Linked DNA regions of Homo sapiens. The protein of the gene in region 1 interacts with the protein of each later gene in a pairwise test. Each region holds a gene or a part of one and is shown on either strand. Other genes may lie near its edges.

Evidence for each region.
Region 2: the proteins of TRIM34 (region 1) and MNAT1 interact in a two-hybrid assay, tested with the Homo sapiens proteins (one large-scale study listed by BioGRID and IntAct).

Annotation. Positions count from the first base shown.
Region 1 is NC_000011.10:5,623,819-5,628,100, reverse strand, and holds the start of TRIM34 (E3 ubiquitin-protein ligase TRIM34), read right to left. Parts: upstream 3,101-4,282; 5' UTR 3,041-3,100; intron 1-3,040.
Region 2 is NC_000014.9:60,797,206-60,801,027, forward strand, and holds part of MNAT1 (CDK-activating kinase assembly factor MAT1), read left to right. Parts: intron 1-881; coding exon 882-955; intron 956-2,053; exon of another isoform or gene 2,054-2,186; intron 2,187-2,206; exon of another isoform or gene 2,207-2,836; intron 2,837-3,822.

The DNA.
Region 1 (4,282 bases):
TGACCCCACCACTTCCCAGTGTGGCTCAAGCCCAGCAGCAGTCAGGGAGGTAGAGAAGGGAACATGAGTGCCATTGGCCTGACAGAACTCCCAGGTTACCTGGTTACCATAGCTGCCAGGTGATTATACCCTTCATTTGAGTCTTCTCCTAACATCTGGACTCCTAACATCTGGATATGATAATGCAAACTTTAAGTCTCTCTGCAGGTAGATAGTAAAATTAGAGTGTCTCTACGAGTGACTTTTAGGGGAGGATGTCTTTTGAAGTTTCTAGACAATATCCTAGACACTTCTTCTGGATTCTTGGTCAGAAACTGCCAATAAGGAAAGTAGAGCCTGTTTTGACATCCAGAGACCCTGAGAGCTCAGAAACATTGTAGCATCTCCTCCCCATTCCTCTGTGCACTGAGTTCTTGCTTCAGCTACTCCTTAGAGTCCAGGGCCCAATCTATACCACATTAATGACTCTCTCCCCAAGAGCTGTAGTGTTCTGGTCAATATATCTCCAAAAAGCTATTTTTTAACATAGAATCATTTTCATTAAGCAATCCCTAATGTCTTTTTCTGTCTGTTACTTCGTGAGAATATGCTGAAAGAGTTTTTTTTCAAATTAGTTTCCAACCACCTCAACTGCCACCACTCTGGTAGAAACCACCTGAATTCAGGAAATTGTTCTTCCACTAGTCTTGCTGATACTATCATTGCCCTTCCTTTTTTTTTGAGACGGAGTTTTGCTCTTGTTACCCAGGTTGGAGTGTGGTGGCATGATCTCGGCTCACTGCAACCTCTGCTTGCTGGGTTCAAGCGCTTCTCTTGCCTCAGCCTCCCGAGTAGCTGGGATTACAGGTGCCTGCCACAACGCCCAGCTAATTTTTGTATTTTTAGTAGAGAGAGTTTCACCATGTTGGCCAGGCTGGTCTCAAACTCATGATCCACCTCAGGTGATCCACCCGCCTTGGCCTCCCACAGTGCTGGGATTACAGGTGTGAGCTACTGTGCCCACCCATCACTGTCCTTCTTCACTCTGCTCTCATCTCTGTTCTTACATCAGTAGACAGAGTGATCACCTTAAAGCAGATGTCAATCATGTCACTCTCCTGTTCAAACCCATGCCACCCAGAGCGAGGCCAGACTTCATAATGGTCCAGTTAGGTCCACATCACACATGCCTTCCCACTGCCTCAATCCTCAGAGCTCACCATATTTTTTTTTTTTTTTGAGACAGAGTCTTGCTCTTTTCCCCCAGGCTGGAGTACAATGGCGAGATCTTGGCTCACTGCAACCTCCACCTCCTGGGTTCAACTGATTCTCCTGCCTCAGCCTCCCGAGTAGCTGGGACTACAGGCATCCGCCACCACACCCGGCTAATTTTTGCATTTTTTTAGTAGAGACACAGTTTCACCACATTGGCCAGGCTGGTCTTGAACTCCTGATCTCTGGTGATCTTCCTGCCTTGTCCTCCCTAAGTGCTGGGATTACAAGCGTGAACCACCGCGCCTGGTAAGAACTCACCTTTTATGCCTCTCCAGGCACACTCCCATCTTAATCTTCCACACTGTTCTCCTTTTAAGCCCGTGGGAAAAACCATTAAAGCCTTTAATTTCCTCGCATTCTTAAGATTCTACTCAAATGTGTTCTTACAATGAAAACTATTTAAAACTTTCATAAAAACTATTTAAAGTTGCAAGGCCTTCATGAGGTCTTTACAGAGTCATTACCCTAATGTAACTTCTTGAAGATGTTACTCCATAGTATTAGTCATCTTCTTGTGTACTCTAACATTCATCGATATGGTCTATGATCACTTTCTATTTGGATGTAGGCTTCCACGTATATTTCATATTTATTGAATGTTAAATGGATGCTAATTGCACGTTTTTACATTAGCAGCCTGCTTTATAATCAATTTTATCCCATATGTTGGGTCTTGTGCCTGACTAGACGCCTCTGGGAGACAGTCAGTATGTAGGCAGACATGGATTCTACCCAGGAGTAAGGCAGAGACACAGGATGGCAGTTACAGTGAACTCTGAAGGGTGAGAGCAGAGGCCAGAATGGCATGTGTCAGAATATCTGTAACATATCAATCAAGGTGCAAATTGCTCACAAGTGAGCTTAAGATAGGACATACTCTATATCAAATTCTTAACAAGAAGATTAAATCCGTGGGCTCCTTCTGAGCCCACAATGAACAACTTCTGTTAAGTAATTGTGAGCAAAGAAAAGCAATAACAAATTGAGGTTACAAATCAATGCCAAGGTGTGTCTAAGAGGAAGAATGATGAGGAGCAAGTTCTGAGACAGGTGAAGACGCTGGTAGCACATGGGTTACTGAAGTAAAAGTAAACAGGTATGTTCAGGGATGTGCAAGGAGAGCCCTGAGACCTGCAGAAAGACATAGGAACAGAGGGAACAGAGCGGTGTGCGGCAGTCACATCACTCAACCTGCTATTGTCAGGGAGGCCAAGGACTAAGAATACGTGAGGATGGCCACAGAAAGCCCCTTAGTGGTTGCCAGGAGGGCAGCAAAAGAACCCACTTCAACCCCTGGCCGTGCTCCCATGGCTCCATTCTATCTGACGCCACATACTAGGAGCTAAGCCCTGCACACACTTGGAAAACAGAGACCTCCTTTCACCAACTTCTCTTTTGAGGAGGGAGTAGGAGGTGGAAAATAAGAGATCTTCTGTTCATCTCTTTGAGAGAGAGAAAGAGAGAGAGAGAATTGTTTCCTTTGCAAGGTAGAAAATCAAAATTATACAATAGGAAGGGAATGGAAATAGATTCAGCCTGGAGGAAAAAAAGACACCCCAGAAAACAAAGGCGGCCTTCTGCCTCTTTAACACTGCTTTCAAGGCTGTCCCTCCCCAGACTCTAGGCTGCTATCAGTGTGCACTCAAAGCAGGAAGCCTGCAAGCTAGCCTTTGCTCCCGACAGAGCAGGGGAGACTTGGGGCCATAAATCAAATTCCCCTAACTTCACTGAGAACTTTTCTCCTGGAGTCTCATACCCTCTACCCCCCACAAACCTCCCCACACACCTTCAGAGCAACAGAAATCTCGGCTCCTGGTTGAAGAGGTGAAGAAAAGCCAGGGTGGGTGTGGTCAGGATTCATTCAACAAATGAGGTTCCTCTGTGTGAAGAAGTCCCTCCCTCCTGAGGAGGAACTGCCTGAGAAATGAAAGTGAAATTTTTGGGGCTGTCAGGAAGAGAAAAGGGGAAGGAGCGTCTAGGTGAAATGAGCTGTGTAGTCCTTTAGAGCCTCTGGACAGAAGGTAATGCTCTTAATCCAGTGATTCTCGAGGGCAGAATGGAGGATTTGCACTAGATGGCACATTTGGCAATGTCTGAAGAGATATTTGGTTGTTAACTAGGGGAATGCTACTGGCATCTTAGTGGGTACAGGTCACAGATGCCGCTAAGCATTCTACAATGTATGGGACAGTTCCCACAGCAAAGAATGATCCATTCCAAAACATCAATAGTGCTGTGTTTGAAAAGCCCTGTTTTAACCTTCCCTGCCTCCCAGGCCAGCTAAACACCCAACTCCCCTTCTCCTACCACTTTCATGGTTGCACATGGTCCCTCGAATCAGTTTACCAATTTGAATTATCCTTCAGCTCCAACGATCCACTTGTGTGCTACCTACCAAAGTACCATGTCACCCGCTAGGAGATGGAGGATGGGTGGCGGAGAGGTGGATGGTGCTGAGAAAAGTTGGCTACAAAGGACCTGGGGAACTTTTGGGAGTGTTGGAAATGCTCTAAATCTTTAAAAGGGGTAAAACTTTTTCAAAACTCATCAAACTGTGCACAGTAAATGGGTGCATATTATTGCATATAACATATATATCAGTAACATTATTTAAAAATGAAAAGTCTTCCAGGTAATTTTTACGCGAATCTGAGGCTGAGAACCACTAGTTGTAAGTAGTAAATCAGGAGTTTTGTGCCCTGGACAGAAAGGGCTGCTTTGAAACTGAGGTAACCTTGAAATCAAACCGAACGAGGAGGAAACTTGAACAAGAGTTGCCACTCGTTTGGTCACAGGATGACCCCACATTGTGCCTCCACAAACAGCATGCTCCATTTTCATGAGGAATATAAGTTGATAGATTCATTTTCTGTGCTGTATGCATCAAAACAATCCTAGTCTACCTCCTGTAGAGCACATTACATAATAAAAGGTGCCACCTTTGGAAACCACCTGACAAGGTACAATTTTCATTTTTGCCCTCTCCATCTGACTCATGCATGGTGATCAAGGACAATTATAAACTTGT
Region 2 (3,822 bases), on another chromosome or scaffold:
ACTTTATCAATCCGCCTAGCGGCTCTTTTATTGTTTGTATAACTTCTGCAAGGTAGTCTCTTAGATTTTGATCTTTCATTGGTAATTCCTTGCAATTTACTGATTCTTTACAGGTACATTACAATATATACAGATTTTCTTGATCCAGTATTTTTTAGACTATGTCATGAAAAATGGAGGAGTCGCTTCAATTTTTTGTGTTTTGGAAATTAGTGAATCCCTTAGAAGTAAATAATACCATAATTTCCAATGTTATGTCTTGCTTAAGCTCATTTCCCAATCTTTCAAGCTCCCAATTTATCTTTCCCTGAAGTCTTAACAAGGATTTTGCATATTGTACCATTTTCTCCTGATCCTACTTCTTCTCCGTAGTCATAAGAATTTAAGAATTGCATTTTTGGTCTGGTTACAAACCTGGTGTCAAGAAAAACAGTGTTTTAGGCTGGGCGCGGTGGCTCATGCTTGTAATCCCAGCACTTTGGGAGGCCGAGGTGGTGGATCACTTGAGATCAGAGTTTGAGACCAGCCTGGCCAACATGGTGAAGTCCCATCTCTACTAAATACAAAAAACATTAAGTGGATATGGTGGTGTGCGCCTGTAATAATCCCAGCTATTCGGGGGGCTGAGGCAGCAGAATTGCTTGAACCAGAGAGATGGAGGTAGCAGTGAGCCAAGATTGTGCCACTGCACTCCAGCCTGGACAACAGAGCAAGACTCCATCTCAAAAAATAAAAATAAAAAAATAGAGAACGATGTTTTACACAGTAAGCAATTCTTTTCCATGTATCATATATGAATTAGGTCAGAACAAGCAAACCAGTTAGATAATATTAAAAGCAATGATATGTAATATGTAGATTTCTTTTTTCTTTTCTTAAAGATACAATAAAAGGGAAGAAGATTTTCCTAGTCTAAGAGAATACAATGATTTCTTGGAAGAAGTGGAAGAAATTGGTACGTTTTTAATTTGATGTATGCTAGCCTATAAGACCATGTGCTTTTATCTTTTAAATGCTTAGGAGAACATCTCACATAAAAACCTCTTAACAGGTTTTGTTGTGATAGCTAACATTTACCTAATTACTTTCTTTTGCACTTGAGTCATGTTTGTCAAATTGAAGGCATACTTAAGTAAAGAACCTATTTAATATTGTCTTTTAGGAAAAATATGTTTAATAGAGATAGTAACACTTCATAGCTGGGGAGGAAGACTATATGGGTACATGCATCTGTGTGTTGATAACATATTAGAGTAGTTTAAATGAATGGAAAACATATTCTGATTTTTCAAAAATGGGGTTCCTATTAACCATATTTATAGTGACTAAAGCCATATGTTTATCATTATTTGTGCTTCTGTGGATATAGTAGTCTTAAAGTACTTTGAAGCAGTTGACTGTTGAAGTGGCATTCTATTAATCAGTATTATTCTGGAATCAGAGGTTGGAGTAATCTTTGTGCCTTTTCTTTCTGATGTGTTTAGTCAAAAGGAAGATTTTATCAAGAAAAAATGATTTCAGTTTTCTTAAATAAAATTTCAGAGATGTTAAAAACTTTGGAAGTTGTTATATGTTGATTTAAAAAATAATGCTGCTTTTTAAACTTGCAGTAATTATTACTAAGTGCGGGTTTGGAAATGACACAAAGGTTATATACTGTGAACATTAGAATGAGACTATGAGGATCAAACAGCAATCATTTTTATTCTTTCAAACTTAATAGGTAACTGTACTCAATATTTACTATTAAAAATAAGATTATAATAAAATGGATCATTCTTTAGAAGATTTATATATGATAAACTTAACAATTCAGATTCCTGAGGAATAATAAATATTCTAATTCCTTTAATTTCTTTACTAGAAAATCCAGAAAATCTTTTTGTTTCAACTGTTACCTGAAACTTTTCTCATATGTCTAAGTTCATTTGTTATGCCATAGCAAAAGCATGTGGAAAACATAATTTAGGGTTTCTCTGGGATCTTTCAGTGCCATAAGAGCCACTGCTTTTCCATTCTGCATGTACTCATTGCACTTTGTATGTTATCTTAGCAATCATGAGTGACTATGGATTTTAGCTGAAAAGATGGTAGAATTGGGAGTGACAAGGCAAAGTGGAAAAGTTAGAATGTAGACTGAGAAGAAAAACCAGAAAGAAATCTACAAGAACTGGGCAAGTATGAAGGTATGTAGAAATCTGGCTCTATATAGATACTAAGTATAGGACAAGCTGTTGGATAGCAATTGGGAAGAAAAGTAGCTTACATATATTCTAAAGGTAATGTGATTAGTCAAAAGTCTGGTCAAGCAATAAAGGGAAAGGAAATTATAGGTGTTGCAGTACAAGTTGAATACATGGTCACAATTACAAGCAGGCAGTCAGGATAACTAAAAGAAACATATACAGAGAAGGTGAGGAATAGGTTTAGGGGATGAACTACAAGGAGATCTTGATTCTGGGATTAAGATTCTGACTGAGCTATGATTAAAAAAATATATATATATATATACACACACACACTGCATATATATGTGTGTGTGTGTGTGTTGCTCCAAGATAAAGTAATTTGAAGGTGTGGACAACATGGGGCCCATAATTGGTACTAGAATTGATAGGCAAGAGCAAGTCTGGATATTGGGGGTATACAACATGTAATGCTTTCTTTACCAAAATATAGAAGCTGTGGCTCAGACCATTTAATTTGAAAGTGATTCTGCTATTATGTGTATTCATGAAGGACTGTCTTCAGTTGCAGTATCGGGAAACTCTCTTAAGCAACCTCCACTTAATTGTCTCATTGAAGTAACTGTCATTCCCCAGTTCTTCCATAAAAGGTACTCACTGATACCCACAGCATAATGAATGCATTGTGAATGCCATCAACCTTCTTATGCCAGTTGTACTTGTTATTGTAGTTATGTAGTTATGTAATTAAATACATATTTAATATTATATGTAATTTAAATATTTAAAGTGTGTAAGGTTGGGGAAAAAATTGTAAAACTCTAGAAGGATTCTGTTTCTCAGGTTTTTAAGTCACTTCTTAAAAAATGGAAATTGGCCAGGTGCAGTGACTCGCGCCTGTAATCACAGCACTTTGGGAGGCCAAGGCAAGAGGATTGCTTGAGCCCAGGAGTTTGAGATCAGCCTGGACAACATAATGAGATCTATACCAAAATTTTAAAAAGTAGCTGGGTGTAGTGGCACACGTTTGTAGTCCCAGCTACTTGGGAGGCTGAGGTGGATCTCTGAAGTCTAGGAGTCCAAGGCTACAGTGAACCATGGTTGCGCCACTGCACTCCAACCTAGGCAACAGAGCATGCCCATGTCTCAAAAAACCAGAAAACAGAAAAGGAAACTGAACAATATAGATGACAGTTATGGCCTATATAAGGAAGAAGCAAAACTCTAAAATCTAGAATTTGCTCTATGTCATTAAGTTAGAGAATGACTATATACTTCCTATATATGTTTTAAGTTAAAGTATTTGAAGAGAGAGACAGGTGTATGTGTGTGTTTCTCTCCTTTAACAAACTTATTTAAATGTTCAACTATAAATCCTCATTGTGTTTATTAAAGAGTGGTTCTACTCTATTTAAAGATATTGATGATTTTTGGGAAGTAACCTCTTGGATTTATAGTTTATTTTCTGAACTTCAGTTCAATTCAGCAAGTTTTTAAATTATGTTATGTGAACTGCTTTATGGATGGGGATATGTGGTATTTGCCCTCAATAAGCTCAGACTCTAAAGGGGGAGATAATTATGTTAACTAATAACTATAATGTAATGTGATAAGTCTTATAAATAGGCATTTATAA